Regions from separate parts of the Homo sapiens genome. Here all the other regions are linked to region 2. The links come from fine-mapping of genetic effects on gene expression. A gene starts in region 2. Each other region holds a variant in brackets. All regions are shown on one strand. Distances are from middle to middle.

Region 1 (10,818 bases), 380 kb after region 2:
TATTTATTTATTTAATTTTTGAGACAGGGTCTCGCTCTGTCGCCCAGGCTGGAGTGCAGTGGCGCGATCTCGGCTCACGGGCTCAAGCGACCCTCCTGCCTCAGCCTCCCGAACAGCTGGGACTACAGGCCTGCGTCACCACGCCCGGCTAGTGGTTTTTTTCTTTTTTTTTTTTTCTTGAGACGGAGTCTTGCTCTGTCGCCCAGGCTGGAGTGCAGTGGCGCCATCTCGGCTTACTGCAACCTCCGCCTCCCAGGTTCAAGCGATTTTCCTGCCTCAGCCTCCCGAGTAGCTGGGATTATAGGCGCTCGCCACCACACCCGGCTAATTTTTGTATTTTTAGTAGAAACGGGGTTTCACCATGTTGGCCAGGCTGGTCTCGAACTCCTGACTGCCTCGGCCTCCTAAAAGTGCTGGGATTACAGGCGCGAGCCACTGCGCCCGGCCTAGTTTTTGTATTTTTTGTAGAGACGGGGTTTCGCCATGTTGCCCAGGGTGGTCTTGAATTCCTGAGCTCAAGTGATCCTCCCGCCTAGGCCTTCCAAAGTGCTGGGAGTACGTGAGCCACCGCTCCTGGCCCTGCACACAGCTTTTGATTGTACGCCTTCCTTCTGTCATCATGCTGTTCTCTCTGACCGAACAAATCTCTCTTCATCTTTCTATCAAACATCGATTGAGTTTGAGCGAGGGCGTGGAGGGGTTGAGCACAGTGCCAGGCACTGGAAGCACGTTGGTGAACAAGACAAGCCTGGGCAATGTTCCCACAGAGCTCACGATCTAGCGGGGGAGACAGGTTGGAGATAGGGGAGAGGCTGCGGGCGTCTCAGATCTGGCACCAGAGAGATCCTAGACTCCAGGATAAGCAGTCAATAGCTAGGTCAGGGCTGGGCGCGGTGGCTCACGCCTGTAATCCCAGCACTTTGGGCGGCCGAGGCAGGTGGGTCACGAGGTCTGGAGTTCAAAACCAGCCTGGCCAACATGGTGAAACCCCATTTCTACTAAAAACACAAAAATTAGTCGGGCGTGGTGTCGGGTGCCTGTAATCCCAGCTACTTGGGAGGCTGAGGGAGAAGAATCGCTTGAACCCGAGAGGCGGAGGTTGCAGTGAACCGAGATGGAGCCACTGTACTCCAGCGTGGGCGACAGAGCAAGACGCAACTCTGTCTCGGGGGAAAAAAAAAAAAAAAAAAAAAAGCCAAGTCAGGGCAAGATGTGAAATAGCACGTTGGAAGGCTCCTGGGTAAGATTTGACCTGTCACAAGAGGAGAGAAGGTAGCCGGGGCAGCGATTTGATTTCCGGAATGGTGGTTGCTAGGCAGTGTTCGGAATGGATCAGATGGGTGTTTTTGTAAGATCCCTCTGGCTGTTAATGTTAGGGGTGCAAGGGCAGGAGGGAGTTGGGCAGCCAGAGGCGGAAAGAGAACAGCCAGAACAGAGGCTGGATGTAGAATTCTGAACATGTGTGGGAACCTTTCTGGGCCTCAATTTGTCCATCTGTAAATTGGGAGGTAGACTCAATCTTTACGGTCCTCCCACCTCTGATTAAAATTTAGCAACAGTCAGCCGGGCGCGGTGGCTCACTCCTGTAATCCCAGCACTTTGGGAGGCCGAGGTGGGCGGATTGCCTGAGCTCAGGTGTTGGAGACCAGCCTGGGCAACACGGTGAAACCCCGTCTCTACTAAAATACAAAAAAATTAGCCGGGCGTGGTGGCGGGCACCTGTAGTCCCAGCTACTCGGGAGGCTGAGGCAGGAGAATGGCTTGAACCCAGGAGGTGGAGGCTGCAGTGAGCCGAGATCGCGCCACTGCACTCCAGCCTAAGCGACAGAGCAAGACTCCGTCTCAAAAAAAAAAAAAAAAGAAAACTTAGCAACACTTCAGGTAGGTGAGAATTTACAAGTGGTTAAAACAGGGGAGAAAGATAATGGGAAAGAAAGAAGGCAGGAGGGATGGAGGAAACAAAGGGGATACCTGCGAAAGAAGGGACTCCAGTGAAAAATCACAAAGGCTTGGTCAATGTCATGTGATTAGCCCAGCTGTCAATTATAGAAGTTAGGATTCTGTCTTCCCACAGAGACTGGAGGAGTCTAACCTTCCTCATGATTACATTTCAAAAGGACGGCTTTCAGGTCCTAAAGAAAGACACTCCTGAGCTGAAGGAGATAGATATACATCTCAAAGGGATAGAGGCGGGATTCGTATTTGCAAGCCATTTTTAGTAAATGCTCAAAGGGAGGGCCCAGGAGTCTTTCATTAGGTGTTGGCTAAAACAAATAGTAAATTCTTCTGGCATCATTGAGCTTCTCTGGCAGGCATTGTAACGGGGGTGCTGGGATCATCCTAGGAACTTGTGCTTCTAGAAGCATGCTACTCTTTGGTCATCTCTTAGTGCAGAGGTTAGAATGGAGTTGTCATGTGCTGAGAGGTCTGCAGTTCTCAGGGTGCACTTTTTTTTTTTTTCCTTTTTTGAGATGGAGTCTCCCTCTGTTGCCTAGGCTGGAGTGCCATGGCACAGTCTTGGCTCACTGCACCCTCCACCTCCCAGGTTCAGGGAGTTCTCCTGCCTCAGCCTCCCGAGTAGCTGGGACTACAGGTTCATGACACCACACCCGGCTAATTTTTGTATTTTTTTTTTTTTTTGGTAGAGATGGGGTTTCACCATGTTGGCCAAGCTGATCTTGAACTCCTGACCTCAAGTGATCCGCCTGCCTCGGCCTCCCAAAGTGCCGTGATTACAGGTGTGAGCCACCATGCCTGGCCAGGATGCACTTTTATTCATTTAGTAATTTCTTCACGGCTTCTATGTCTTTTTCATTATGGAGAATGATGCTGTCATGAGCATTCTTGGGCTTGTAGCTGTCATTCTTTTGTGCAAGTGCTGGTGGCTAAATTCCTAGAAGCAGAATTGCAGAGTCAAAAGGTATGACATTTTAGACATTTTAAATGTTTAGCATTTTAAACATTTTAAACATTACCTAATTACCCTTCCAAAGAGTTGTACAAATCTGCGTAGCCATCAACAATAAACTAAAATGCTCTTTCCTCCCATCTTCCCCACTACCATTGGAATCTCTTGTCCCACCAGGGCTGCTAATTTCTTTTTTTATTTTGTCTTTTTTTTTTCCTTTTTGTGGAGAACGGGGTCTTGCTATATTGCCCAGGCAGGTCTCGAACTCCTAGGCTCAAGCTATTCTCCCGCCTCTGCCTCCCTAAGAGCTGGGGTTATAGGTGTGAGCCACCGCGCTCAGCCTCTTTTTTTTTTTGGCTCTGGTTGCCCAGGCTGGAGTGCAATGGCGTGATCTCGGCTCACTGCAACCTCCGCTTCCCAGGTTCAAGTGATTCTCCTGCCTCAGCCTCCCAAGTAGCTGGGATTACAGGCATGTGCCACCATGCCTGGCTAATTTTTTGTATTTTTAGTAGAGACAGGGTTTCTCCATGTTGGTCAGGGTGGTCTCGAACTCCTGACCTCCGGTGATCTGCCCTCCTCGGCCTCCCAAAGTGCTGGGATTACAGGCATGAACCACGGTGCCCAGCCAGGGCTGCTAATTTCAGTGGACCCCTTTCCCTCTCAGAGCCTTTTTCTCAGTGTGAAATGGGGATAGGACAATGATATTAATGACAGCAGGTGTCATCTGCTGAGCTTCCTCTGCCTGCTTTACATGATCCTCCTGAAGACATACTTTTTTTGGTTGGTAGGCTATTAATTATTGCCTCAAGTTCAGAGCCTGTTATTGGTCTATTCAGGGATTCAACTTCTTCCTGGTTTAGTCTTGGGAATTATTATCTCCTTTCCACGGATGAGACCACTGAGAGGCAAATGGAGCTGAAATTGCAACTCCACTCTGACATCAAGAAACTCTTCTTGGCTGGGTGCAGTGGCTCACACCTGTAATCCCAGCACTTTGGGAGGCCAAAGAGGGCGGATCGATTGAGCTGAGGAGTTTGAGACCAGCCTGGGCAACATGGCAAAGACCATGTCTTTACAACAAATATAAAAATTAGCTGTGCCTGGTGGTGTGTGCCTGTAGTCCCTCCACACAAGAGGCTGAGGTGGGAGGATCGCTTGGACCAGGGAGGCGGAGGTTGCATGGAGCCAGGATCGTGCCACTGCACTCCAGCCTGGGTGACAGAGTGAGACCCGTCTCATAAAAAGAAAAGAAACTTGGCTGGGCGCGTTGGCTCACGCCTGTAATCCCAGCACTTTGGAAGGCCAAGGCAGGCAAATCATGAGGTCAGGAGATTGAGACCATCCTGGCTGACACTGTGAAACCCCGTCTCTACTAAAAACACAAAAAATTAGCCGGGCGTGGTGGTGGGCACCTGTAGTCCCAGCTACTCGGGAGGCTGAGGCAGAAGAATGCAGTGAGCAGAGATCACGCCACTGCACTCCAGCCTGGGTGACAGAGTGAGACTCCATCTCAAAAAAAAAAAAAAAAATTAAAAAGAAAGAAAAGAAACTCCTCCCTAGAGCCCGCCTGAGCTAGAAAGTTGTACAGATGTGGGTCCCCCCAGAGTTTGGGACTTTTCGTTGTCACAGCTCTGTTGAATATTATGGTAATTACCTGTTTCATGCCTCGTCACAGTTTAGAGGGATGCTTTCCCGGGGAGGTGCTGTAGGAGGAAACAAAGTTCCCCCAGCATCCCTTTAGAAGGAGAAATGCCAGTTACCTCTTGTCAATTCTGGGTCATCACCCATAGTCTCCCTTGAAAGGACATGTACAGGGCAAATGGTGCCAGTCACTGAGGAAAACCTCAGTCCTGGGGAAGGGGGCACACACAGGTGGGCAGCAGTTCTGGGTCTTCCATTCCCCCAGCCTCCCTACCCCAGTGTGGCCACAGAGAAGCATGCCACTGGTTTCACTTTAAATTCTTGATCAAATCTTCACTTGAACATTCATACTTTGCGGAGAAACTCGAGGGTATCAGAGGGCAACTCCTTAATCCAACCCACCCCAAATCTATATATTTACCTGCATTTGCTCCTTAAATCTTTTTTTTTTTTTTTTTGCCTTCTGTTAAAATGGATTCTCTGCTCCTGTTTAAGACCAACCCTCCCTTGAGCTCTGGCTTCGAGTTGCCCGTCCCCTTCATAAACACTGCATGGGCTTGTCCCCATCACACACAGATATGTTCCAGTGTTTGCTTTCTTTTAAGATATCCTCTTCTAAAATTCTCTTTTTTGTTGTGTCTCTGCCAGGCTTTGGTATCAGGATGATGCTGGCCTCATAAAATGAGTTAGGGAGGATTCCCTCTTTTTCTATTGATTGGAATAGTTTCTGAAGGAATGGTACCAGCTCGTCTTTGTACCTCTGGTAGAATTTGGCTGTGAATCCGTCTGGTCCTGGACTTTTTTTGATTGGTAGGCTATTAATTATTGCCTCAATTTCAGAGCCTGTTATTGGTCTATTCAGGGATTCAACTTCTTCCTGGTTTAGTCTTGGGAGGGTGTATGTGTCCAGGAATTTATCCATTTCTTCTAGATTTTCTAGTTTATTTGCGTAGAGGTGTTTATAGTATTCTCTGATGGTAGTTTGTATTTCTGTGGGATCGGTGGTGATATCCCCTTTATCATTTTTTATTGCATCTATTTGATTCTTCTCTCTTTTCTTCTTTATTAGTCTTGCACACATATGTTTATTGCGGCACTATTCACAATAGCAAAGACTGGGAACCAACCCAAATATCCATCAATGATAGACTGGATTAAGAAAATGTGGCACATATACACCATGGAATACTATGCAGCCATAACAAAGGATGAGTTCATGTCCTTTGTGGGGACATGGATGAAGCTGGAAA[C/A]CATCATTCTGAGCAAACTGTCACAAGGACAGAAAACCAAACACCACATATTCTCACTTATAGGTGGGAATTGGACAATGAGAACAACTGGACACAGGGTGGGGAACATCACACACCGGGGCCTGTCGTGGGATGGGGGGAGGGGAGAGGGATAGCATTAGGAGATATACCTAATGTAAATGACGAGTTAATGGGTGCAGCACACCAACATGGCACATGTATACACGTGTAACAAACCTGCATGTTGTGCACATGTACCCTAGAACTTAAAGTATAATAAATAAAAATAAATAAAAATAAAAATAAAATCTCCTCTTCTGACCAGTCCTCTACAGCAGGGCTCTGTTTCTGTTCCCTAATCACCAAAATGTCTCTTATGTGATTATCCTTTTTTTTTGAGACAGGGTCTTGCTCTGTCACCCAGGCTGGAGTGCAGTGGCACCTCCCAGGTTCAAGTGATCCTTCTGCCTCAGCCTCCGGAGTAGCTGGGGCTACAGGCGTGCACCACCACGCCCAGCAAATTTTTTTTTTTTTTTGTATTTTTAGTAGAGACGGGGTTTCACCATGTTGGCCAGGATGGTCTCGATCTCTTGACCTCGTGATCCGCCTGCCTTGACCTCCCAAAGTGTTGGGATTACAGGGGTGAGCCACCTCGCCAGGCCCACCTTCTCTCTTATAGACATATGCATATATTGTCTTTATCTGGTCTGATGCCCCAGCAGCCCTGATTCCCCGAGTATACCTCCACAAACAGGAACCCTCTCCTACTTGACCTTCTTATGGACCTTGTGTCAGGAAATCAACACTGTTAAAAACAATGTGAATCTGGCTGGGCGCGGTGGCTCACGCCTGTAATCCCAGCACTTTGGGAGGCCGAGGTGGACAGGTTGCCTGAGGCCAGGAGTTTGAGACCAGCCTGGCCAACATGGTGAAACCCTGTCTCTACTAAAAATACAAAAATTAGCCAGGCATGGTGGCATGCACCTGTAATCCCAGCTACTCAGGAGGCTGAGGTGGGAGGATCACTTGAACCCAGGAGGCGGAGGTTACAGTGAGCCGAGATTGTGCCACTGCACTCCAGCTTGGTGACAGAGCGAGACTCTGCCTTAAGACAAAACAAAACAAAAGTGAATCAACATCAGACTCCATTCCATTTCACCAGATACCCGCAAAGTCTTCTTTCCCTTCTGTCCTATTCTCTATCCAGAATGTGCATGGCACTTCCTTGCCATGACTCGTCAGCCTCCTGTCAGGAACAGCCCCTCAGCCTCACATTGTCTCTAGTGTCCTTGACAGTCTGTCTTAGTCCATTTGTGCTGCTATAACAAAATACCACAGATAGGGTCATTTATAAAGAAGAGAACTTTGGCCAGGTGTGGTGGCTCACGCCTGTAATCCCAGCACTTTGGGAGGCTGAGATGGGCAGATCACGAGGTCAAGAGATCGAGACCATCCTGGCCAACCTGGTGAAACTTCGTCTCTACTAAAAATACAAAAATTGGCCGGGCATGGTGGCGCATGCCTGTAATCCCAGCTACTTGGGAGGCTGAGGCAGGAGAATCACTTGAACCTGGGAGGCGGAGGTTGTGGTGAGCAGAGAGATGCGCCACTGCACTCCAGCCTGGGCGACAGAGTGGGACTCTGTCTCCAGAAAAAAAAAAAAAAAAAAGAACAGACCTTTATTGCTCCCAGTTCTGGAGGCTGGAAGTGCAAGATCAGGGCACCAGCAGATTTGTTGTCTGGTGAGGGCCTGGCCCCACCTTCCAAGATGGTGTCTTGACTGCTGTGCACTCCTGAAGGGATGAACTCTGTGTGCTCACGTGGCAAAGGGGTGAAAAGAGTCAGACTGTCTCCATCAAGCCCTTTTATAAGGTCATCAAATCCCACTCATGAGAGCAGAGCCCTTATGACTCAGTCACCTCCCAAAGGCTACACTTCCCAGCACTGTTGCACTGGGGATTACGTTTCTTTTTTTATTTTACTTTTGTAAAAAAATATTTTTTCTATCTGCCTGCTGAGGCAGGCAGATCACCTGAGGTCAGGATTTCAAGATCAGCCTGGCCAACATGGTGAAACCCTGTCTCTACTAAAAATACAAAAAATTGGCCGGGCGCGGTGGCTCACACCTGTAATCCCAGCACTTTGGGAGGCTGAGGCGGGCAGATCACGAGGTCAGGAGATCGAGACCATCCTGGCTAACACAGTGAAACCCCATCTCTACTAAAAATACAAAAAAAATTAGCCGGGCGTGGTGGCAGGTGCCTGCAGCCCCAGCTACTCGGGAGGCTGAGGCAAGAGAATGGTGTGAACCCGGGAGGCGGAGGTTGCAGTGAGCCCAGATTGCGCCACTGCACTCCAGCCTGGGCGACAGGGCGAGACTCCATCTTAAAAAAAAAAAAAAAGGTTGGATGGATAGATTTGATTTACCTGTGAAGCCTTCTGTATGTATATAATTGTCATAAGTAGTTTTTCCTTGTTTTTCTTTGCTACTCTGTGAGCCAAACCCTGGCAAATCTTCCAGCCCCCCTCATCTTCGGGTCTTTGCACGGGTCCTCTTGCTTGGGACATTCTCCACTTTCATTGGGGGAAGCCCAGTGGGAAGCCTCCCTGCAGTGCCCTAACCTCTCCCCACTGCGGTGCTGGCTTCCTGCCATGGAACCTGACTTGCTGGACTGTCTCAGGACATGGAAGCAGGGGCATCTGCATTGGGTTCACCGCCGTTATTGGCACGGTCCACAGACATTGGGATGAGCGAGTGTTCTCCCACGGCTCTGCCCTCTTCAGGCACAGTCACTGCGTATGTGCATCCTGCTCTTCACACCTCATTCACTTCACAAGCTGAGCAAGCTGTCCCGTCTGCACTGGGGATGGAGCTGGGCACTGGAGACACCTCCAAGAAAAAGCAGATGAGCTCCTTGCCTTGTAGTGGAGGCACTTTACTAAGAAATAAATGAAATGACAAATTGTACCAGGGCTCTGATGAAAATGGGGTGCCCTGACAGAGAGTAAGGGGATGGGGGGTTCCCAATTTCAGGACAGTGGTCAGAGAAGGCCCCTTTCGAGAGAAACCATTGCATTTTAGACCTGCAGGTTGAAAACAGTCAGCCCCGCCACTTCGGGGGCTAGAAGTAGGAAGTGACAGTGACAGCGTGTGCAAAGGCACTGGGGCGGGAAGGAGGTTGGTGGGTGAGAAGCAGAAACCAGTGATGGACCAGTGGGAGCACAGCTGGCCATGGCTGCAGAGGTCAGCATGGGGAGGGCTCAGGCTTTATTTAAGTGCCATGTGAAGCCACTCGAGGGTTTTAAGCAAGAGGGCGACGTGATCTCTATTTTAACACGTTCTGGAGAGAAAGCTGTCACTGCAGACTAGGGAAGGGGCAGGGCTGGGGTGGGAGAGCAAGGCTGGGCTAAGGTGCAATCTCTAGGATCTAAGAATCCTAGGAAGGGAGGAATCATGGCCAACCTCCGGGTTTCTGGCTTGATGAGTCTGCTGGGTGGTGGTGTCAGTTCCTGGGTGAAGAAGATCTCAGGGACTGGGCTGGGAGGGGGTGGGCAAGTGTGGCCCATGCTGCCAGCACTGACCCCTCTATGCTGTGGGCGTCCACTCTGTCTACCCAGAGGGTGATGCTGTCCAGGGCATACTGAGGCCCCAGTGCCCGCATGTGCCACCCCACAGATACCTGTTGATCGAAATTCTTTTCACTGTCTTCATTTGGGTCAAATCCTCACCCAAGGGGGTTGGATTTTATTTTTTATTTTTTTGAGACAAGTTCTCACTCTGTTGCCTAGGCTGGAGTGCAGTGGCGCAATCTTGGCTCACTGCAGCCTTGAATTCCCAGGCTCAGGTGATCCTCCCACCTCAGCCTCCTGAGTAGCTGGGACTACAGGTGTGTGCCACCATATTTGGCTAATTTTTATTTTTTTTGTAGATACAGGGTTTCACCATGTTGCCCAGGCTGGTCTTGAATTCCTGGGCTCAAGGGGATCTGCCCATCTTGGCCTCCCAAAGTGCTGGGATTACAGGCATGGGCCACCGTGTCCAGCCAGATTTGACTTTTTACACCCTAGTTTTTCAAGGTCAACTTGTGGAAAACATGGGTACTTCTTTTTTAAAAAAAAATATATATATATATATTTTTTTATTTAAAGAGACAGGGCCTTGCCATGTTGGCCAGGTTGGTCTTGAACTCCTGGCCTCAAGCAATCGACCCACCTCGGCCTCCTAAAGTGTTAGGATTACAAGCGTGAGCCACCAAGCTTGGCCACTTCTTATTTATTTATTCTAGGGCACTTTGTGAAAAATAGAAAACGTGTGGCTATAAATGACTGAGCATTTCTGGTACATCGTGTATGGCAGACTGAAGATGATTCCAAAGATCTTTTCTCAAGTATCTTGAGAAATTTAGCTTTTTTTTTTTTTTTTTTTTTTTTTTTTTTCTTGAGACAGAGTCTTGCTCTGTTGCCCATGCTGGAGTGCAGTGGCACGATCTTGGCTTACTGCAACCTCCGCCTCCCGGGTTCAAGTGATTCTCCTGCCTCAGCCTCCCAAGTAGCTGGGATTACAGGTGCACACCACCATGTCTGGTTAATTTTTGTTTGTTTGTTTGTTTTTTGAGATGGAGTCTTGCCCTGTTGCCCAGGCTGGAGTGCAGTGGCACAATCTCAGCTCACTGAAACCCCCGCCTCCCGGGTTCAAGTGATTCTCCCACCTCAGCCTCCCGAGTAGCTGGGACTACAGGTGCCCGCCACCACGCCCGTCTAATTTTTGTATTTTTAGTAGAGATGGGGTTTCACCATGTTGGCCAGGATGGTCTCGATCTCTTGACTTTGTGATCCGCCCGCCTTAACCTCCCAGAGTGCTGGGATTACAGGTGTGAGCCACAGCGCCCGACCTAATTTTTGTATTTTTTTTAGTAGAGACAGGGTTTCACCATATTGGCCAGGCTGGTCTCAAACTCCTGAACTTGTGATCCTCCTGCCTCGGCCTCCCAAAATGCTGGGATTAGAGGCATGAGGCAC
Region 2 (10,818 bases):
AGAATCGCTTGAACCCGGGAGGAGGTTGCAGTAAGCTGAGATCGCACCACTGCACTCCAGCCTGGGCAACAGAGTGAGACTCCATCTGAAAAAAACAAAAACAAAAACAGAGACCACAATGATACATTTTACATTATGACCTAGTACACGTGTATATAAATATCTGCATACATAAATAAAATAAAGTTGATGGAACTACTTACCATCCCTATATAAATGCCCGCTGATTGTATCTATTCTACATCATTTTTTTTTTTTTTTTCTGAGATTAGGGTCTCACTCTGTCACCCAGGCTAGAGTGCAGTGGTGCGATCTCAGTTCACTGTAACCTCTGCCTCCCAGTTTCAGCGATTCTCTCATCTCAGCCTCCGGAGTAGCTGCCACCACACCCAGCTAATTTTTGTATTTTTTGGTAGAGACGGGTTTCACCATGTTGGCCAGGCTGGTCTCAAATTCCTGACGTCAAGTGATTGATCCACCTGCCTTGGCCTCCCGAAGTGCTGGGATTTCCAGCGTGAGACACCACGCCCAGCCCTATTCTACATCACTTTTTAAAAAATACTAGTCATAATCCACTAAGTTGATTTCATGACCAGTGAAGAGATAAGAGCCTTCCTAACAGTTTTACCCATGTGAGGTTTTTCTTTTTCTTTTGAGACGGACCCTTGCTCTGTCGCCCAGGCTGGAGTGGAGCGACACTATCTTGGCTCACTGCGACCTCCGCCTCCCGAGTTCAAGCAATTTTCCTGCCTCAGTCTCCCAAGTATCTGGGATTACAGGCACGTACCACCACGCCCCGGCTAATTTTTGTATTTTTAGTAGAGACAGGGTTTCACCATTCAGGCTGGTCTCGAAATCCTGACCTCTGGCGATCCACCTGCCTCACCACACCCGGCTGGCTTTTTGTTTGTTTGTTTTTTTGAGATGGAGTCTCGTTCTGTCGCCCAGGCTGGAGTGCCACCACAACCTCCACTTCCCAGGTTCAAATGATTCTCCTGCCTCAGCCTACTGAATAGCTGGGATCACAGGTGTGTGCCACCATGACCAGCTAATTTTTTTTTAAGATGAAGTCTCGCTCTGTGGTCCAGGCTGGAATGCAGTGGCGCTATCTCAGCTCAGTGCAACCTCTGCCTCTCAGGTTCAAGCAATTCTCCTGCCTCAGCCTCCTGAGTAGCCCTGATTACAGGCGCTTGCCACCACACCTGGCTAATTTTTGTATTTTTAGTAGAGACGGGGTTTCACCATGTTGGTCAGGGTGGTCTCAAACTCCTGACCTCATGATCTGTCCGCCTCAGCCTCCCAAAGTGCTGAGATTACAGGCATGAACCACCGTGCCCGGCGTTACCCATGTGTTTTTGCTTGGAGTTTTTAGTACTCTAAAAGCAGACGTAATTCATAATGTGGGCCCATGTTTTTTAAAAAGTTTTTAATGAAATTCTGGAAGCGACAACAAAGCCATAAGGAACAATGTTACCCAGCTTCCTACTGCACAACCTGCATGCCTGTTTCTTCACCCTGTCCTGAATGTGCTGTTTAGCATTCTTATGATTTTAAAAATTTATGTGGCATATGCAGATATTTCTAAAAATATATAGTTCAGTTCTGAAATGTTTTTAAACTTTATATAAATGATATCATCTCCTGCAACTTGAAAGGGCTTTTCTGGGTTTCTTTACTTCATTTTGCTTCGTGAATTTTATCCACATTAACATGGGTAGGTGTCACGGGTTCATTTTCTCTGCAGTATGAGTACACCAGTCTCCTATTGATGGACAGGTGGTTTCCAACCTTCTGTTCCTAAGTTCTGCTCTGAATCTTCACGATGTATGTGTATACATGTGTGACTTTCTCCAGGGGCATGTACCTAGGCGTAGGGCTGAGTATCTTCAATAACTTTTTACAAATATATCTAACAAAATTTCAAATACATGTGCTTTTTGACCCAGTAATTCCATTTCCTGGATTCTATAAAAAAAACACGCAGGTGGCCACAAAGATGTTCTGTTCTACGAAGTTCAGGGCAGCACTGTCTATAATAGCAAAACACCTACCAAAGGGGAGAACTACCTTCAATAACACCCCACAAATATTTATTGAGCACTGACCGCGTGCCAGAAACACTGTTACAGGTGTCAGGGAAACAGCTGTCTTACAGCTTAGGGGAGAAGGACGGGGAAGCAAAAGAAACAAGGCTCCCGCCCTCACAGAGCAGAAATAATGAGCACTTTCCTCCAGGGAGAAAAAGAGGCAAACCTCATCATCCAGAGCACGATTTCCCAACCAACATTTCAGAACATAATCCTTTGACATGGGTGGCTGGAGGATGGCCAGCAGCATCTCTGCCTCTACCCACTAGATGCCAGTAGTGATCCCGAGTCCTGACAATGAAGACATTGCCAAGTGCCCCCTGTGGGGCAAAACTGCCCTCGGTTGAGAATCACTTATTTGGGACGACCAACTGGCCCTCTTTGGACTCAACCTTCTGGTGTGACCCTCAAACAGTGGAGCATCAACAAAAATGTCACACAGGACAGAATAAAGATCCTCACTGAGATCAAGCTGGAGTGTGTCTCTCGTCTGTCTGTTATACTAGTACAAATAGCAGAGGTCAGCCAACACTTTGTATGAAGAATTGTAGAGAGGTGGCACCATAGCCCTGGGAGTCCCCGACTCCTGGGCTACTTGTGAAACAAATGACAACGAGATTGACTGCGCATATCCTTCAAGAACCCCATCTCTTTCATTTTACTGCCAGTCACACCTGTAATCGCAGTGCTTTGGGATGCTGAGGCGGGAGGACTGCTTGAGGCCAGGAGTTCAGGGCCAGCCTGGGTAACATAGCGGGACCCTGTCTCTACAAAACATTTTTAAATTAGCCAGGCATGATGGTGCATACATGTAGCCCCAGCTACTCGGGAGGCTGAGGTGTGAGGATCATTTGAGCCTGGGAGTTCGAGGCTGTAGTGAGCCGAGATCAGTCCAGCCTGGGTGAGAAAGAAAGACCCTGTCTCAACAAAACCCCAAAACAAAAACATAATACATATACATACATACACTAAACCCTACTGTTTGAGGATAACCACAGCGGCAAAGCCAGACTAATAATGTATTTATCCTCTATCCTCACTGGCTTACCCTGTGGGTATTATGCTTGATACTTTGTTTAGTTAATTCAGCTAATGTTAACTCAGTATTTCTGGGTGGAATACATACACAGGAGCCAAGTCCTAACCTCACCCTTGAGATGGGGGCGGTTTCCCCTGCCATACCTCAGTCCCCGCAGACCTGCTGAATCGGATCTCCTGGGGTGAGGCCCCAAGATCTGCCCTTTCAAAAGCTCCACTGATGATTCTGAAGGCAGACAAGCTTCCCTAAGGAATGCAGACAGGTGAGGCAGACAGGAAAAATGTCATCATGGTACAACAGGTGCAATCAAGAGGCAGGAACAGCCCAGAGGTGGTGGGCTGCCCAGAAGCTGTGATCTCTGAGGGGCATTTTGAAGGCTGGGAATTTTTGCCAGGTGAAAAAGGGCACACATCCATGTGTAAATGCACGGATGCATGAAAAGGGGCACAGCATGTTGGATGGAACTGGAAATTTCTGTGGGGTGGGGAAGAGGGAGGATGGGGAGAGACAGGGGCCTCGATCTGACCCAAGTGTGTCCATTGGTCTGTGCTGCTGATCCACACCACCCCCACAGCGAACACTGGGCCTTCTGCTGTGGTTGTTGAAATGCACCCCCAACCGCCCCAGAACCTGCCTCTCCCCTTCTGCATTTTCAACTCAGACGCACCCTTTCAAATCTAGTTCAGATACCACTTCTTCAACAAAGCTGCTTCTGATGTCCTCAGCCAGGAACAATCTCCCTTTCTCTAAATACATTCAGTTCTTTTTCACTATCTTTAGCTTTCTGGCCTTGACTAGAAGTTATCTGGGTCTTGTTTCATCTCCTGTTAGTTCATAAACTACTGAGGGGCAAAGTACGCATCCGGTTTGCCTTTGTGGCCTCCATGACACAGCTGGGGCTGAAAGAGTATTAAAAGAATGTGCTGCAAAGGTATATTATTGCAGGTAGAATTTATATCGTCTCCATTAGATTAGCTACAAAATACAATCCCATCATGCTGCCTAAGCTCGAATAAGTTTGCTTTTGCTTTACGAAAAATATGTCATTTTTGGATTCCAAACCCAAAAAGCTGTGGCCATATTCAGCAGGGTATGGTGAGGAGTACAGGGGCTAGGGAGAGCAGCCACACCTGAGGGACCTTGGGCAAAGCCACGCAACCTCCCTGAGCTTGTTTCCCACCTGCAAAATGCCGGTACAAAAACACTGCTGAAAACTGAGCGGCCCCGCACAGCGCCGGGCGCAGAGCAGAGGCTTTGCAGATAGCTGCCCCCAGATGGCACCTTGCAGCCTTCTGACCCAGACCAAAGTCCAAAAAGGTTGACTTACCCAAGGTCACACCTCTAGATAGTGATAGTGTGGCATCTGGACAGAATCACACTGGTCTTCCTAAACCTTAGCAAGACAACTCTCCAGTCTTGATGATTAACTGGATACAACCCTAAGCAGCTAACATCAGTCAAAAAAACTCAACGAGTGAAGGTTCCTGATTCTATTCCCTAACCCGTTTCTTCTAGTGGAAAAAGCTGTCTTCTTTTGGCAATTTTGGGGTGAGACTAATTTTGTTTACAACCCCAGCGCTGAAATGGGGTGGAATTTTACAGATGCCGTGTAGGCCCTCTGGCTTCAGGCGCTATGCTTCACCCTCCGGAGTTGGGCGACCGTCTTCTAGTTATCACCCCCCTAGCAACCAAAAGGTGTGTGGCCCAGGAAATAAACCCACTGGGAAAGGATGTTTTGTAGTATACAGAGTGCTTTCACATATTCCAAACATTGTGTATCAGGCACTGTGCTGGGTACTGCGGTTACAAATCAGTCACTATCACCCAGGATGTTAAGTCCTGCAGCGAACTAGTGTATTGTGCTTGACTTTGTTCCAAGCCTGGGCCTTGGCACCTTACAACTGAAAAGCTAAGTTGGTTCCTTTTAATTCATTTATGTTTCAGCTCCAGTGTCTGGCCTACGGGACCACCCACTCTAAAGCAGCCCCCGTCAATCCCAGAACCTGCCTTATGTTCGTTCTTCAGCAAGTGTGTTCAAGGCTTCACCTCCTGCACATAGTGGGGAGTGCTGGGAACACGGTCTCTAAGTGCTCCACAAAGGCTGAACCAGCGGTGAAAGGCCTGTAAGAAGAGCTAGGGAGCACGCAAAAGCCCCCAGCAGGGCTGTGAAGGCAGAGAAGGCACGAGGGCGTTCCAGGCACAGGGCCCAGCGTGAGCAACCGCTCCTAGAGTGAGGCTCCTGGGGTGAAAATGCCAGGGTGGTGACAGGTGGGGGCCGAACGCCGTCCCTAAGAAGCTCAGCCTGGGGACGCCCTGAGTCTTAACCCGGGCGGATACTGGCCTCCCCGGACAAGCAGCTACCCCGCCGCGGGGCGTCGGCCCCCTTCGGGCCTCAGTTTCCCCACGTCCCTCCCGACGCCTCACCTGGGGCGGGAGCAGGCGCGGCAGGCGCGGGGGCTCGGTGCCCCGGCCCCGCTGCAGGGCGGCCTGTTGGGCCGCGTCCCGCAGCCGCCGCGCCGCGTCCCGCAGCACGAAGGGGGGCGGCGGCGGCGGCGGCTGCGCCTTCGTCACCTGCTCCAGGACCTGCCGCAGCTGCTCGGGGCCCAGCGGGGCCACACGTGCGACGCTGCCGCTCTGGCCCGGAGGAGCCGGGCCGCCGCCGCCGCCGCCATCCTCGCTGCCGCCCCCAGCCTCCGGCTCCGCATCCGCCATGGCGGCCGAGGCGGGGACTCGAACCCGGGTCGCTGAGCGACGGCGTCTCCAATGTACGTCACCTAGGAGAGGGGCGGGCTACGAGTGCCTCGCAGGCCAAGACACCTAGGAAGGCGACCGTGTCTGGCCGGGAAAGTCGTGGAGTGCCCCGCCCCAGCCGACAACCGCCGCGGCTCTTAGGGCTGATCAGCAGAGCGGACCCCCCTTATTTTCCTTATTGCCTGTCACGGATGTGTTTAAGACTCACCTTCTCTGGGAGCTGTCCCGGATCTCCCAGGGGGAGGTCTTCGGGGTTTCAGAGCCCCTGGCCCAAAAGTTACCACAATATCCAAGTGTTCTGACGTCATCATGCATCCGAATCAGCGGAGGATGCTGTCTGGAGATGCAGAGTACTGTGCCCACCCCTAAACATTTGGATTTATACATCTGGGAGGGGACCACAGTTTGAATTGTTAACGAGAGTGTTTCCCAAATTTTTGCCTTGTCACCGTAGCTTCTCTCTACCCACCCACCCAGATTGGGTGCACCTTGAAGGGAGAGATGATATATTACACAATCGGTGCCCAGCACAGGCCCTGCCCAGAACACAACGCACGCTCAGGGCATGAATGATGGATGGATGAATATGAATAAACGAATGAGTGAACGAATGAATGAACCCACCCTCTCTCTATCCATCCAGCTCCACTGCCCCATCTTCCTCAGCCTGATCGCCTCTCCTTCTTACGGTTGAGGCTCTGTGCGCCCTCCGAATCTTGTAGCTGCAGGTGTGTACACATGTCCCAGCTCCTTTCCCCAGGGAGAGCAGGAGGTCCACTGGTCCACAAACCCTTCTTAAGCACCTGGTGGGTGAACCGCTGTTTCCGCCCTGGGGGGTATACAGTCTAGGTGCCGACCCCCAAGGAGGAAACTTCCCAAGGGGGAAGGAGGAAACTGGCATTTGCAGCACAGTATGATGAGCGCCGAAGCCGGTAAAGTAAGGCTGGCGGCCTGGGTGGCGTCAGAGAAGGTTCTGGAAGATCACCACCATCCTCATCAATACTCACATTGCATTCACGATGATCCCTTCCGTGTTATTTTTTAATGGTGAATTTTATATTATGGGTATCTTACCACAATTTTTTTTTTTTTTTGAGACAAGATCTCACTCTGTCACCCAGGCTGGAGTGCAGTGGCACAATCTCAGCTCACCGCAACCTCCATCGCCTGGGTTCATGCGGTTCTCCTGCCTCAGCCTCTTGAGTAGCTGGGATTACAGGCGTCCGCCACCATGCCTGGCTAATTTTTGTATTTTTAGTAGAGACGGGGTTTCATCATGTTGGTAAGGCTGGTCTTGAAACCCTGACCTTAGGTGATCCGCCCGCCTCGGCCTTCCCAAGTGCTGAGATTACAGGTGTGAGCCACCACACCCGACCAGATTTCAGGAATTCACATGCCTTCTGCTCAAAATAATTTTCATGCCACCGTGGCATATTCTAAACCCCTTCAAGCTCAGGAAACTTGAGGGCAGCAACCTCCACCGATTCCTCCATGCTGTGTCCCTGCATCTAACAACGTGCCTGGCACGACTATTAAAAGATGTGACATCCATCCTGTGTACAGATGTCTATTTTAAGTGTCAGCTGCCCCAGGCTCTCCTAACTTTGCTTATAATAGCAGCAGCGCCATCGGCTGGCATTTATTGAGAACTTTTACTACACCCTGGGCACATACCAAGGTCTGTAGATGTTGAGCTGCTTCTTATTTAGGTCAGAACTAGTAGCTGTTTCCACTGTAGAATTTTCAAAAACAGGTGGAGCCCTTGCCGGATCCTGACATAAAATGGCATCAACCTTATACAACCGGCTTTTGTTCAGCTGAGCACACCTGACCACCCTAGAAACGAACCGAGTGAGAAATTCATCCACTTGCTCTGGCTTCAAAATGTAGAACCAAGAGGAAGAAATGTGAAGCCTAAGATGTCTCCGAAAAGAAAAGAGGGGGGACAAAAAGCAAGAGAAGGTTTCCAGAGGCTTCCACAACCTGAATGCCTCACTAAAAACATGGCAGTCATCTAGTGGCTGGTCACTGTCTCCAGCGGGTTGGGGTTTGTGTCTCACCGTTTTGCTCCCAGCCTAGGAATGGTGCTGGGCATGCAGTAGCTCTCCATATGCATCTGTGGAATGCATTCATTCCAGACCTGGATTTTCACCTCCAAGACTTCCCCGCAAGTGGGCCCAGGGAACACTAGGCGGTGATATCTGCGAGCACCTGTCTTCACTGGGCGGTTCCTCCAGGCCAGACGCAGCCTCAGGAAACGTGGGGGGTGGGGGCGTGGGATGTGCATCGGTTGGATGTCCAGAGTGTCCTTTAAAACGACAAAAGTAAAAGGCCTAACCAATGGCATTCTAAAACAGACCCTTCAGGTGGCGGCGCGGGGACTCGGGGTGAGGAGCCACCGCCCCAGCGCGCTCTGAGTTCCTCCCGCTCTCCCCAGCAGGTAGCCTTGGATAACCTCTGGGCCAGTCCAAAAGATTCCGCAGTTCTCTCCTGCCTGCACGCCGGTTACAGTATCAGAAAGGAACATTGCGGGGACCAAAAAAAAAAAAAAAAAGTTAGCCTGGCCCGTACGGGGATCGAACCCGCGACCTTGGCGTTATTAGCACCACGCTCTAACCAACTGAGCTAACCGGCCGCCTGACGTTGGGCCCCCACGGGAGCGCCTAAGAGGGCTCCAAGCCCGCGCCCGCCCCCTAGCGACTCCCTGCCGGGCCGGCGCCGCTGGCTGCATTCCGCTTCGCCACAGCCGCGACTTCCGACCTCTTCACAGTCATCCCCATTGGCCCGATGCAGAAACTAAGACTTAGGGGACTTCAAGGAGAAGGGAGGCGACTCCCTACAGCGAAGGCGGCTTTTTTTCACAGGAAAAATGCAAATTGCACATGGGAGGCTTAGCTCCGCAGTGAGAAGGTTTTCAAACATGCCAACTCAGTGTTGTTTTTATCTCCGAGAATCCTGCAGCGTGGAAACTTCGTGTAACAGAGGCCTTTAGCATGGTTAAATCAAGCTTGGAAAATACAGAAAACCGGACAAAAGAACCACCGAATTCCCTATCGCCCAATAAACAAGGGCCGCTGGGGTCTTGGCTTCCTTCCTGCTGGTTTTTTTTCCTACAGTACACGTGTATTTATACACACACACACACACACACACACACACGGAATCCAAAGCCTTGTATGAAGCAGTCTTTTTTTTGAGACGGAATCTCCCTCTGTCGCCCAGGCTGGAGTGCAGTGGCGAGATTTCGGCTCAATGAAGCAGTCTATTTTTTATCTTTCTTTTTGCATTTAATATTCTAGAATAAGCATATCCCTAAACAATTGCAAATGTCACTTTAAATGATTTCTCAGTGTTTCATTGAGTGGACAAACCACCATGGCTTTCTCCTTTTTTTTTTTTTTTTTTTTTTAGTGTCTGTAAAAATGTTTTCATTTTGCTCTCTCTCTTGTTAACTGAGCACATAAATAAATCACATGGTACAGGCAGAAGGGTTGAAACAGCCACTGAGTAGGCAACGATGGTACCCACCCCTAAAAGCGTAGGATCTGTATGCAAAAAAAGAGAGAGAGAAAGAAAAGGCTGGGAAGACAAACCACCACCGTGTCCACCACCCAGCCTGCATGTCCCAGAGGCCTACTGTTCTCCTACAGGGCCTGACTATGGTGTGCTGCGTGGCCCTCCCACTCCAGGAGCACCAGCTTTTTTTTTTTTGAGACAGAGTCTCGCTCTGTCACCCAGGCTGGAGTCCAGTGGTGCAATCTCAGCTCACTGCAACCTCTGCTTCCTGGGTTCAAGCGATTCTCCTGCCTCAGCCTCCCAAGTAGCTGGGACTACAGGCACGCGCCTTGTCCGGTTACTTTGTGTGTGTGTGTGTGTGTGTGTGTGTGTGTGTGTGTGTGTGTGTGTATTTTTAGTAGAGATGGGGTTTCACCATGTTGGCCAGGCTGGTCTCGAGCTCCTGACCTCAAGTGATCCGCCTGCCTCGGCCTCCCAGAGTGCTAGGATTACAGGCGTGAGCCACCGCATCGGGCCAGCTTTTTAACATTATACATTCTGCTCTGATTACTCCACTAAACTGCTTGGACTGAGGTATCGTCAGGGTTCTATGTCACAAGCAGCAGAAACCGAGTCTAGCTGATTCGAAAAGATTTTATGTAAAGGATGTTAGGTAGGTCACCCTCCACGAGTAAGGCTAGAGGACCAGGTTTAGAAAAACGGACACTCAGTGAAGACATACTCATTCAGCCCGGCAGTGCCCTGGCCCCCAATCAGCTGTGAGTCAAAGAAACCTAATCCCCATCCTGATGGAGCTCTCCGCATAACAAGGAAGGCGGATATTATAGGGAACGGAGAAGATTAGGTGGTGTGCTGGGAGGCTGGGCAAGCGTCCTGAAGTCTGGAGCACTTTACTGTGTCCAAAGGACAAGGATAGATGAGCAGGCCAAAGGGGTAAAGCCCTCTCACAGAGCACTGGTGGGGGTGCAGGCATCCTGTCCATTTTGCTTACAGCTGAATGAATGCCCAGAACCTAGCACACTCTCTGGCATAGCAATAGGTAAGAGTCACATGGGTTTAAAACAGTCAGATCAAGTCATTTCTCTGCTCACACTCTCTCCTTTTGTTGCAGCCCTAACAGGCCTGCCAAATTTAGCAAATATAGATCAAGATGCCGGGTTAAAATTGAATTGCAAAAGGACAATGAAACTTTTTTTAGTGTAAGTATGTCCCACGCCATATTTGGGACATACTTATACTAAAAGAATACATGTGCTGTATCTGACAACCCTACGCCCAGGGTAACATCCCGTTGAAAGACACCACCGGACCTGCGCCTTTCCCCTCTGCCCTCCTGCACCCCTGCCCGGCTCCCTCCGCGGCAGCCCCTCCGCCTCCTCCCTGGCCCTTGCTCCTGTGCTGGGGCTTTTGCGCTTCTGTTCCTCT
Region 3 (10,818 bases), 250 kb after region 2:
CGGGGTTTCACCGTGTTAGCCAGGATGGTCTCGATCTCCTGACCTTGTGATCCACCCGCCTTGGCCTCCCAAAGTGCTGGGATTACAGGCATGAGCCACCGCGCCCGGCTTTGTTTTGTTTTTGAGACAGAGTCTCGTTCTGTTGCCTAGGCTGGAGTGCAGTGGCACAATCTTGGCTCACTGCAACCTCTGACTCTCAGATGCAAGCAGTCGTCGCGCCTCAGCCTCCCAAGAAGCTGGGATTACAAGCATGTGCCACCACACCCAGCTAATTTTTGTATTTTTAGTAGAGACAGGGTTTCACCATATTGGCCAGGCTGGTCTTGAACTCTTGACTTCAAGGGATCTGCCTACCTCCACCTCCCAAAGTGCTGGGATTACAGGTGTGAGCCACCATACCTGCCTTATTTTATTTTATATTTTATTATTTGAGACAGGGTCTGGCTCTGTTGCCTGGGCTGGAGTGCAGTGGTACAAGCTCAGCTCACCGCAGCCTTGACCTTCCAGGCTCAAGCGATCCTCCCAAATCAGCCTCCCAAGCAGCTGAGACTACAGGCACGTGCCACCATGCCCGGCTAATTACTAATTTTTGTATTTTTTGTAGAGATGGGGTGGGGGGTGGGGGTGGGGTCTCATCGTATTACCCAGGCTGGTCTTGAACACCTGGACTCAAGCAATCCTCCTGCCTCAGCCTCCCAAAGTTCTGGGATTACAGGTATGAGGCATTGCACCCGGCCCCACTTTATTTTATAGATAAGAAAAACAAGCTCTGGAAGTGGAGAACACGCAGGGCTCTCTGGGCTAAGGGAGGCCAGGGCTGCGGTGCAGGCATCAGACTTCTACTCCTGCACCCCGACACCTCCCAAATGCCCAAGAGCTGGGCAGGGCCTGGGGAGTGGGATGGATGTCCTAGGCTCAGCTCTGCTTCCAGGGAAGGGGTTCTGGAGGAGCAGATAGGCCCAGTCTTGAGTTTAAGACTACAGATGTGTGTGTGTTTTGCTTATGTTTGTATCCCAAATACTCATAACAGTGTCTGGCACATGACAGGCACACAAATCTATGCTAACAAATAACAAATTAACCTAAGCACTTCATAGTTTACACTTTCACTTACAGTTTCTAATTTTTTTTTTTTTTTTTTTTTTTTTTTTTTTTTGAGACTGAGTCTCGTTCTGTCACCCAGGCTGGAGTGCAGTGGCACCATCTTGGCTCACCACAACCTCCACCTTCCAGGTTCAAGCAACTCTTGTGCCTCAGCCTCCTGAGTAGCTAGGACCACAGGCGTACTTCACCACGCCTGGCTAATTTTCTCTTTTTTATAAACTATTTATTTGGGAGATTTCCAAAACATACAAAATAGAAGCAGATAGATAATAACAAATGTTGGCAAGGATGTGGAAAATTGGAACCCTCATAGGTACACTGCTGGTAGGAATGTAAAATGATACTGTTTTGGAAAACAGTCTGGCTGTTCCTCAAAATGTTAAACATAGCATTGCCACATGATCCAGGGATTCCACTCCTTGGGATTTACTCAAGATGAACGGATAAACAAAATGTGGTCTATGCATACAATGGAATATTATTCAGGCTTAAAAAGGAAGAAAATTCTGACACATGCTACGACATGGATGAACCTTAAAGACATTGTACTAAGTGAAATAAGCCAGTCACAGAAGGACACACACTGTATGATTCCACTTACCTCAGGTACCTAGAGTAGGCAAATTCAGAGAGACAGGAAGTAGAATGCTGGTTGCCCAAGCTTGGGGAGGAGGGAAGGGAGAGTTAGCATTTAATGGGAACAGTTTTCATTTGGGAAGATGAAAAAGTTCTGAAGATGGATGGTGATGATGTTTGTACAATAATGTGGATATCTCCACCACTGAACTGCAGACTTAAAAATGGTTAAAATGGGCAGGGTGCGGTGGCTCACACCTGTAATCCCAGCACTTTGGGAGGCCGAGGCGGGCGGATCACGAGGTCAGGAGATCGAGACCATCCTGGCTAACAAGGTGAAACCCCGTCTCTACTAAAAGTACAAAAAAATTAGCTGAGTGTGGTGGCAGGCGCCTGTAGTCCCAGCTACGCAGGAGGCTGAGGCAGGAGAGTGGTGTGAACCTGGGAGGCGGAGCTTGCAATGAGCTGAGATCACGCCACTGCACTCCAGCCTGGGCAACAGAGCCAGACACTGTCTCAAAAAAAAAAAAAGGTTAAAATGGTAAACTTCATGTTATGTATATTTTGTTTTGTTTATTTATTTATTTATTTATTTTTGGAGACAGAGTCTCACTCTGTCGCCCTGGCTAGAGTGCAGTGGCGTGACCTTGGCTCACTACAACCTCTGCCTCTGGGATTCAAGTTATTCTCCTGCCTCAAACTCCCAAGTAGCTGGGATTACAAGCACTGCCACCACACCTGGCTAATTTTTTGTGTTTTTAGTAGAGATGGGGTTTTTCCATGTTGCCCAGGCTGGTCTTGAACTCCTGACCAGCATGGCAGGTGATCCACCCACCTCGGCCTCCCAAAGTGCTGGGATTACAGGCATGAGCCACTGCACCTGGTCAGGAATTGTTTTATGAACCGACAGGTGCCCACCAGTCAGCTGCAACAATTACATTAATGAGGTCTCATTTGAGTCTAGAATCTTACGAAGAAGGTATCGTTTATCAATTCCTTTTGATAGATGAGGAAACTGAAGATCAGAGTGGTCACACAGCAAGTAAGAGGTAGACAGACTATATCTTCCCCTACCCGCTTCCAAAATAGATTGTCCCTGGACCCTGGCTTTTCCCCACACCAGCTGCCCCATTTAAACACCCCATTCAAAATGTGATTGGCTGAGCCTAGCCTGTGTCCTAGCTGCAAGAGAGGCTGGGAAAACCGGTGTCTGGTCTTTTCATGGCCTTTTCCTCCCATCTGGCCTCGTGAGGTTGGGGAGTCCCCAGAATGTAGGAGGGGGATTCAGCGCTGGGCAACTCAAAACTGACAGACCGCTGCAGTGGCTCATGCCTGTAATCCCAGCACTTTGGGAGGCCGAGGTGGGTGGATCACCTGAGGTCAGGAGTTCAAGACCAGCCTGACCAACATGGTGAAACCCCATCTCTACTAAAATACAAAAGTTAGCTGGGCATGGTGGCAGGTGCCTGTAATCCCAGCTACTCAGGAGGCTGAGGCAGGAGCATCACTTGAACCTGGGAGGTGGAGGTTGCAGTGAGCCGAGATCACACCACTGCACTCCAGCCTGGGCATAGAGCAAGACTCTGTCTCAAAAAAAAGAAAAAAGAAAAAGAAAAAAAAAACTGACGTCTCTTTCTAAGACCTCACACACCAGACAACAGAGCTCCTCTGCCTGGAATGATTTCTCTTTCTCTTTTTTTTTTTTTTTTTTTTTTTTTGAGACAGAGTTTTGCTCTTGTTGCGTAGGCTGGAGTGCAATGGCGTGATCTCAGCTCACTGCAACCTCTGCCTCCCAGGTTCAAGTGATTCTCCTGGCTCAGCCTCCCAAGTAGCTGGGATTACAGGCGCCAGCCACCCTGCTCGGCTAATTTTTGTATTTTTAGTAGACAGGGTTTCACCATGTTGGCCAGGGTGGTCTCAAACTCCTGACCTCGTGATCCACCCACTTCAGCCTCCTAAAGTGCTGGGATTACAGGTGTGAGCCACCGCGCCCAGCTTTTTTGTATTTTTTTTATTGTGGTAAAATATATGTAACTTTTTTTTTTTTTGATACAGAGTCTTGCTTTGTCGCCCAGGCTGGAGTGCAGTGGTGCGATCCTCGGCTCACTGTAACCTCCGCCTCCCAGGTTCAAGTGATTCTCCTTCTTCAGCCTCCCAAGTAGCTGGGATTATGGGCACCTGCCACCACGCCCGGCTAATTTTTGTACTTTTAGTGGAGACAGGGTTTTGCTATATTGGCCAGGCTGGTCTCGAACTTCTGACCTCGTGTCCTGCCCACCTTGGCCTCCCAAAGTGCTGGGGTTATGGGCGTGAGCCACCACACCCGGCCTGTAACATAAAACTGACCATTGTAAACCATTTTTAAGTGTACAGTCCAGTGCATTAACTACCTTCACAACATTATGCAACTATCATTACTATTTCCAAAACTTTTTCATTCCCCCAACAACAACTCTGTACCCGGTAAGCCACCAATTGCCTGAGATGGTCTCCATGTCCCCCCACACCAGGCTAAATCCTTCCACTCTTCCACTATCTGGCCCCAGATAATCCTTCCATTATCTGGTCTCAGAAAATATTTTCCTGACATAACATAAGCCCCGCATACACTCTCCTTGCGTCTTCTACCTTTCTTTGTAGCATTATGCAACTATAAGGAAATGACCATTCGTTTCAGGTCAGTCTTCCTGTCTCTCTGCTGCCTGTCAGCCCAGGAGGGAAGGCGTGAGTGTTCACTGCTAAATTGGTGCATGTGGCAAACACCTGATACGTATTTGTGGCCTGAGTGAAGAAGTGGTATGTACAAATGATGTTTTCCCCCTTCCTGTGGGGATGACAATTTGTTTAAATAATTCTGTATAATTTAGGAAGCTTTTGTTCCCTTTGCTAAGCCTTCAAGATCTGCTCAAGACTTTGAAAGTGTGATTATAGATTCTTCCTCCATAGGAGGGAATGTCACATCACCTCCCTGAGAAGAACATTCCAGGAAGTGGGGCTTTTAATGAGTCACGGTGTATTAATAGCACCACCAAAATCTGAACAAAGATGCCATTATGTTAGTGCAGAGCAAGTGAGCTGAACACGCTATCTGCCAAGTGTACGTTTTTGCTTGGAACATCAATCATCTTCTTATGAAAGCGTTTTAGGCCTCAACACTTGATCAATGAAAGTTCCAGAACTCGAAATGCAGTCCAAAAAGAAGCACTCTTGTTTTTTTAATGCCAGGTTAAAATTCAAAAAACAGGCTGGGCGCGGTGGCTCACGCCTGTAATCCCAGCACTCTGGGAGACCAAGGCGGGTGGATCACAAGGTCAGGAGATCGAGACCATCCTGGCTAACACGGTGAAACCCCATCTCTACTAAAAATACAAAAAATTGGCCAGGCATGGTGGTGGGCGCCTGTAGTTCCAGCTACTTGGGAGGCTGAGGCAGGAGAATGGTGTGAACCCGGGAGGTGGAGGTTGCAGTGATCCAAGATCGCACCACTGCACTCCAGCCTGGGTGACAGAGTGAGACTCTATCTCAAAAAAAAAAAAAATTCAAAAAACAAGAAACAGGCCGCGCGCAGTGGTTCACACCTGTAATCTCAGCATTTTGGGAGGCTGAGGTGGGTGGATCATTTGAGGTTAGGAGTTTAAGACCAGCCCCGAGCAATGTGGTAAAACCCCATCTCTACTAAAAAATAAAAATAACAGAAAACACATTAGAATGAAAATCAATAAAACATTTAACATCTGAATGCATTTGTGGTGGATATAGAAAAGTATGCTATTTTGCCCTCCACCCCCTGCTTATTTTGTGCGGTTTTTTTTGAGACAGGGCCTCATTATGTTGCCCAGGCTGGACTCAAACTCTGGGGCTCAAGCAGTCCTCCTGCCTCAGTCTCCTGAGTAGCTGGCATTCCAGGTGCGCACCACCACGGCTGGCAACAATTTCCCTTTTTTTTTTTTTTTTTTTAAGGTGGAGTCTCTCTGTCA[C/T]TAGGCTGGAGTGCAGTGGTGTGATCTCACCTTACTACAATCTTCGCCTCCCAAGTTCAAGAGATTCTCCTGCCTCAGCCTCCCAAGTAGCTGGGACTACAGGTGTGCGCCACCACGCCCAGCTAGTTTTTGTATTTTTAGTAGAAGTTTTAGAGGTTTCACCATGTTGGCCAGGATGGTCTCCGTCTCTTGACCTCATGATCCGCCTGCCTTGGCCTCCCAAAGTGCTGGGATTACAGGCGTGAGCTACCGCTCCTGGCCAAACACTTTCCCTTTTAATAAAACCAGTTGGTACCATTTCTAAGCAGTTCCTGAATCCTGTGGTTTCTGCTGTCTCAGTCTCCTTCCTTAGCCTGGAAGGGCAACACACGTAAGAGAAGATGCCCAACCGCACTGCAAGTCATGAAAGGGAAAGTGAGTGTAAGAAGATGCATTTTACACCCATCAGGAATGGCAGAAATTAAAGGAGGACAGTACCAAATGTTGGCTATGGTCTGAAAATGGGGTCTCTCATGTGACCTGATGGGGGTACAGATCAATACAGTTAATCTGGAGGGCAATTTGGCACATCTGATGGAGTGGGAGAACTCACCCTGAGTACTTCCTGGTACGTGCTAGAGAAAGTCTTTCCACTTGCACCGGGAGAAAGGTACAAGAATGTTCTCCACAACCCTGTAGCAGGGGAATTTGAAAATATCTACATGTCTCAAAACAGGAGACTATCTTGGTAATTTGAGTTAATAGGAAATAAGGGGATAAAGGGACGTGCTAAATGACACTCTGAGGAAGCAGGCGGACAAATCCAGATGTGTGGGATATTTGGCTTGGTGTCTTCCACAAATAAGTGCCATTTAAACAACTCTTGTTGCCGGGCATGGTGGCTCATGCCTGTAATCCTAGCATTTTGGGAGGCCAAGGCAGGCGAATCACTTGAGGTTGGGAGTCGAGACCAACCTGGCCGACCTGGTGAAACCCTGTCTCTACTAAAAATACAAAATTAGCTGGGTGTGGTGGCGGGTGCCTGTAATCCCAGCTACTTGGGAGGCTGAGGCAGGAAAATCGCTTGAACCTGGGAGATGGAGGTTGCAGTGAGCAGAGATCGTGCCACTGCACTCCAGCCTGGGCAGCAGAGCAACACTCTGTCTCAAAAAAAAAAAGTACACAAAAGCAGACAGAATAGTATGAAACCTTAGTGACCATCACCATCCCCAACAACCAGCCAACTGGCCATGGCCATTCCCACCCATCCACACTCAATGCACCCTTCTTTCTTTCTCCAAGTCATTCTGAGGCAATTCTGAGATTTCATTGTACCATTTCACCCATAAGTATTTTCCCTACTACATCTCTGCACTCAGACATATTCAAGGCACTTGGTACTATAATTAAATGTACGATTAAGTGAGTGAACAAGGACAAGTCAAGATGTTCATTTTTGTCATTTCTAGTTAACACTGTACTGGAGGTTCTAACCAGGGGCAATTAGTCATGAAAAAGAAAAGACATCCTGATATCCTGATTGGACAGGAAAATGTAAAAAGTATCTGCATTTGTAAATGACATGATCTTGTATATAAAAACTCCTAAGGATTACAAACACACAAATCTATAGAACTAATGAGTTCAGCAAGATTTTAGGATACAAGATTGGCCGAGCATGATGGCTCATACCTGTAATCCCAGCACTTTGGGAGGCCAAGGTGGGAGGATCACTTGAGCCTAGGAGTTCAAGAGCAACCTGGGTAACATAGTGAGACCCCTGTCTCTACTAAAAAAAAAAAAAAATACAAGATTAATATATAAATATCAATTGTATTTTTATACATTAACAATGAGTGATCTGAAAATAAAGAAACATTTTTATTTGCAATAGCACCAAAAAGAATAAAAGATTTAAAAATAAAATTAGGTCAGGCTTGGTTGCTCATGCCTGTAATTCCAGCACTTTGGGAGGCCAAGGTGGGAGGATTGCTTGAACTTAGGAGGTCAAGGCTGCAGTGAGCTAGGATTACTCACTGTCCAGCCTGGGTGACACAGTGGGTCTCAAAGAAAAAGTAATAATAATAATAATAAATAAATAAAATTAACAAAAGGAATGCAAGACTTTTTATACTGTGTATTGAAAACTACAAAACATTGTTGAAATTAAAGACAAACTAAAATGGAAAGACATACCATGTTCATGGATCGGAAGGCTTAATGTTGTGGAGATAAGCAATACCACCCAAACTGATCCACAGATGCAACCCAATCCCTATTAACAATTTCCCAGCACTTTGGGAGGCCAAGGTGGGCGGATCACGAGGTCAGGAGATTGAGACCATCCTGGCTAACACACTGAAACCCCGTCTCTACTAAAAATACAAAAAATTAGCCGGGTGTGGTGGCGGGCGCCTGTAGTCCCAGCTACTCGGGAGGCTGAGGCAGGAGAATGGCGTGAACCCGGGAGGCAGAGCTTGCAGTGAGCCGAGATCACGCCACTGCACTCCAGCCTGGGTGACAGAGCAAGACTCCATCTCAAAAAAAAAAAAAAAAAAAAAAAAAAAAAAAGCTGGCATTTTTGTGCAGAAACTGACAAGCTGGTTATAAAGTTTATATGAAAATGAAGCAGGCATGGTGGCTCACGCCTGTAATCACAGCACTTTGGGAGGTCAAGGCAGGTGGATCATGAGGTCAGGAGTTTGAGACCAGCCTGGCCAAGATGGTGAAACCCTGTCTCTACTAAAAAATACGAAAATTAGATGGGTGCAGTGGCGGGCACCTGTAATCCCAGCTACTCAGGAGGCTGAGGCAGGGGAATTGCTTAAACCTGGGAGGTGCAGGTTGCAGTGAGCCGAGATCGCACCACTGCACTCTAGCCTGGGTGACAGAGTAAAACTCTGTCTCAAAAAAAAAAAAAAAAAAGGAAAAGAAAATGTTAAGGAACCCAGAAAAGCCAATCTTGAAAAAGGACAAAGTAGTAAGACTCACACTTCCTGACTTCAAACATTACTAAGAAAAAAAAAGTGAGGCCAGGCCTGGTGGCTCACACCTGTAATCCTAGCACTTTGAGAGGCTGAGGCAGGCAGATCCCGAGGTCAGGAGTTCGAGACCAGCCTGGCCAACATAGTGAAACCTTGTCTCTACTAAAAATAAAAAAAAATAGCTGGGGGTGGTGGCGGGCTCCTGTAATCCCAGCTACTCAGGGGGCTGAGGCAGGAGAATCACTTGAACCTGGGAGGCGGAGCTTGCAGTGAGCCAAGATTGCACCACTGCACTCCAGCCCGGGCGACAGTGCAAGACTCTGTCTCAAAAAACAACAACAACAAAAAAAAAATATAAGAAAAAAGAAAAAAAACTGAGCAGCTAACATGACTTGTGGCAGATTCAGTTCACTGATTCCTTTTATTATTCGTTCAAAAATTTTTTTGAAGGTTACTGTGCCAGACACTGCACTAGGTGCTTAAGGAGCTGAGGGTTCAGAATTTCTAGGCTCAGAGGGTGACAGTATAGTAACATCATAGAATTCAACCGACACAGCAGAGCACAGTAGCTCATGCCTGTAATCCTAGCACTTTGGGAGGCCAAGGCAGGTGGCTCATTTGAGCTCAGGAGTTTGAGACCACCCTGGGCAAATGGTGAAACCCCGTCTCTACTAAAATACAGAAAATTAGCCAGGTGTGGTGGCGCACGCATGTAGTAGTCTCAGCTACTTGGGAGGCTGAGGGAGGAGAGAATTGCTTGAACCTGGGAGGTGGAGGTTGCAGTGAGCCGAGATAGCGCCATTGCACTCCAGCCTGGGCGACAGAGTGAGACTCTGTCTCAAAAAAAAAAAAAGAAAGAAAGAAAGAAATCAACAGATACTTTCTACACAGGCTGGTCTGGCCTACTGTGGTAGTGCAGAGGGGTTGGCTGGATCCTAACAAAGACTTGAGAGGTCAAGGAACGCTCCCTGGAGGAGGTGTCAAACCCAAAGGTTAAGTCAGGGCCAGGGATGAGGGTGAAGGGAGCATTTTTGGCAAAAGAAAGAGCTGTGGGTGGCTGGAAGGAAAGGTGGCTTGGTGCCTCCCAGGAATGAGAGGAGGTGGGAGTCGCTGCAGCCTTGGGGTGAAAGGTTCTCAGATAGGGACTGAAAAGGGGGTTGCTGGGTGGCCGGGGCAGCGTGGGCCCTTGTGGCCATGTTAAAGGATTTGGATGTCATCCTAGGGCATAGGGGAATTCCCCAAAGTTTTGTGGCATAATCACGACCTCACAGAGGCCTCTCTGGCAGTGAGTGGAGCCCAGAGTGGGCCCAGGGCGGACAGGAGGAATCTGAGGAGCCTTACTGGGGCCTGGGCTATGGGCAGGGCTGGCAGGGAACAGGCAGGGGGATGGAGGAGCAGCGGGGCCTGCGGGGGAGGTCCTGGGCGGGCTGGCGGGGCCCTTCCGTGCTGGGTTGCCGTGGAGACAGCAACATCATACAGGCTGGACCGCAGGACCCCCGCCACCCTTAACTCCTGGGTGATCACTCTGGGAACAAAATGGACATCCCATCCAAGAGGTAAGTGCAGAGTGGCAGCCCTGTGCCCTCTGATGGCCCTGGAGGCTCAGCCTCAAAGACTTTATATAAATGTCACCCCCAGGGCCAAATTGATCTTGAGCCCAGATTCACAATGGCCCCAGCTTGAGTAACAACACGCTCTGCTCATAGTCGGAGATCATGGACCAATTATTTGCTACACCGGGCTGAATTTGGGGCTGCTTTTCTGGGAACAGAGGAAGCTCTGGCCTAGCCCGGGTCTCGGTGCAGATGGTGCAGACGTGCTAGGTGCGAGTGTGCCCAGGTGCCCCCAGCCAGGTGTGCGGGCCGCTGGAGGGGCTGTCACCATCAAGAAGAGGCCCCCAGTGCCAAGAGAGGCCCGAAGCAGTCTGGCCCACCCGGGGAAGTGAGGACTCCTCCTCACACATAGAGGATGGGGGTGTCCCCCCTCCATGGGAGCGAGGATATGACTCCTTCAAGAGTGTGGCAGGTGCCAGTGGCTCACCCTGTAATCCCAGCACTTTGGGAGGCTGAGGCTGGAGGATTGGTTGAGCCCAGGAGTTCAAGACCAGCCTGGGCAACATAGCAAGACCCTGTTTCTACAAAAAATAAAACATTAGGCTGGGCATGGTGGCTCATGCCTGTAATCCCAGCACTTTGGGA

Evidence for each region. PIP is the estimated chance that this variant, and not a neighbour inherited with it, causes the effect.
Region 1: its variant is fine-mapped to the expression of ZNF839 in whole blood (TOPMed, PIP above 0.99).
Region 3: its variant is fine-mapped to the expression of ZNF839 in whole blood (TOPMed, PIP above 0.99).

The regions. Positions count from the first base shown.
Region 1 is chr14:101,936,702-101,947,519 of GRCh38, reverse strand. No RefSeq gene overlaps it. Among named protein-coding and RNA genes, the nearest start is that of DYNC1H1, 22 kb to the left of the region's middle. RefSeq lists enhancers at 1,243-1,902, 1,903-2,564. The variant C/A (reference allele first, on the strand shown) is at 5,800.
Region 2 is chr14:102,314,786-102,325,603 of GRCh38, reverse strand. It overlaps ZNF839 (zinc finger protein 839), which reads right to left and starts at 5,858. Exons shown (of 8, transcript NM_018335.6): 1 at 5,551-5,858. The coding sequence starts at 5,838. It overlaps TRI-AAT5-4 (tRNA-Ile (anticodon AAT) 5-4), which reads right to left and starts at 8,512; the gene lies at 8,439-8,512. RefSeq lists enhancers at 5,239-5,348, 8,723-8,822 and silencers at 5,449-5,638, 5,699-5,798.
Region 3 is chr14:102,065,380-102,076,197 of GRCh38, reverse strand. No RefSeq gene overlaps it. Among named protein-coding and RNA genes, the nearest start is that of HSP90AA1, 16 kb to the left of the region's middle. The variant C/T (reference allele first, on the strand shown) is at 5,658.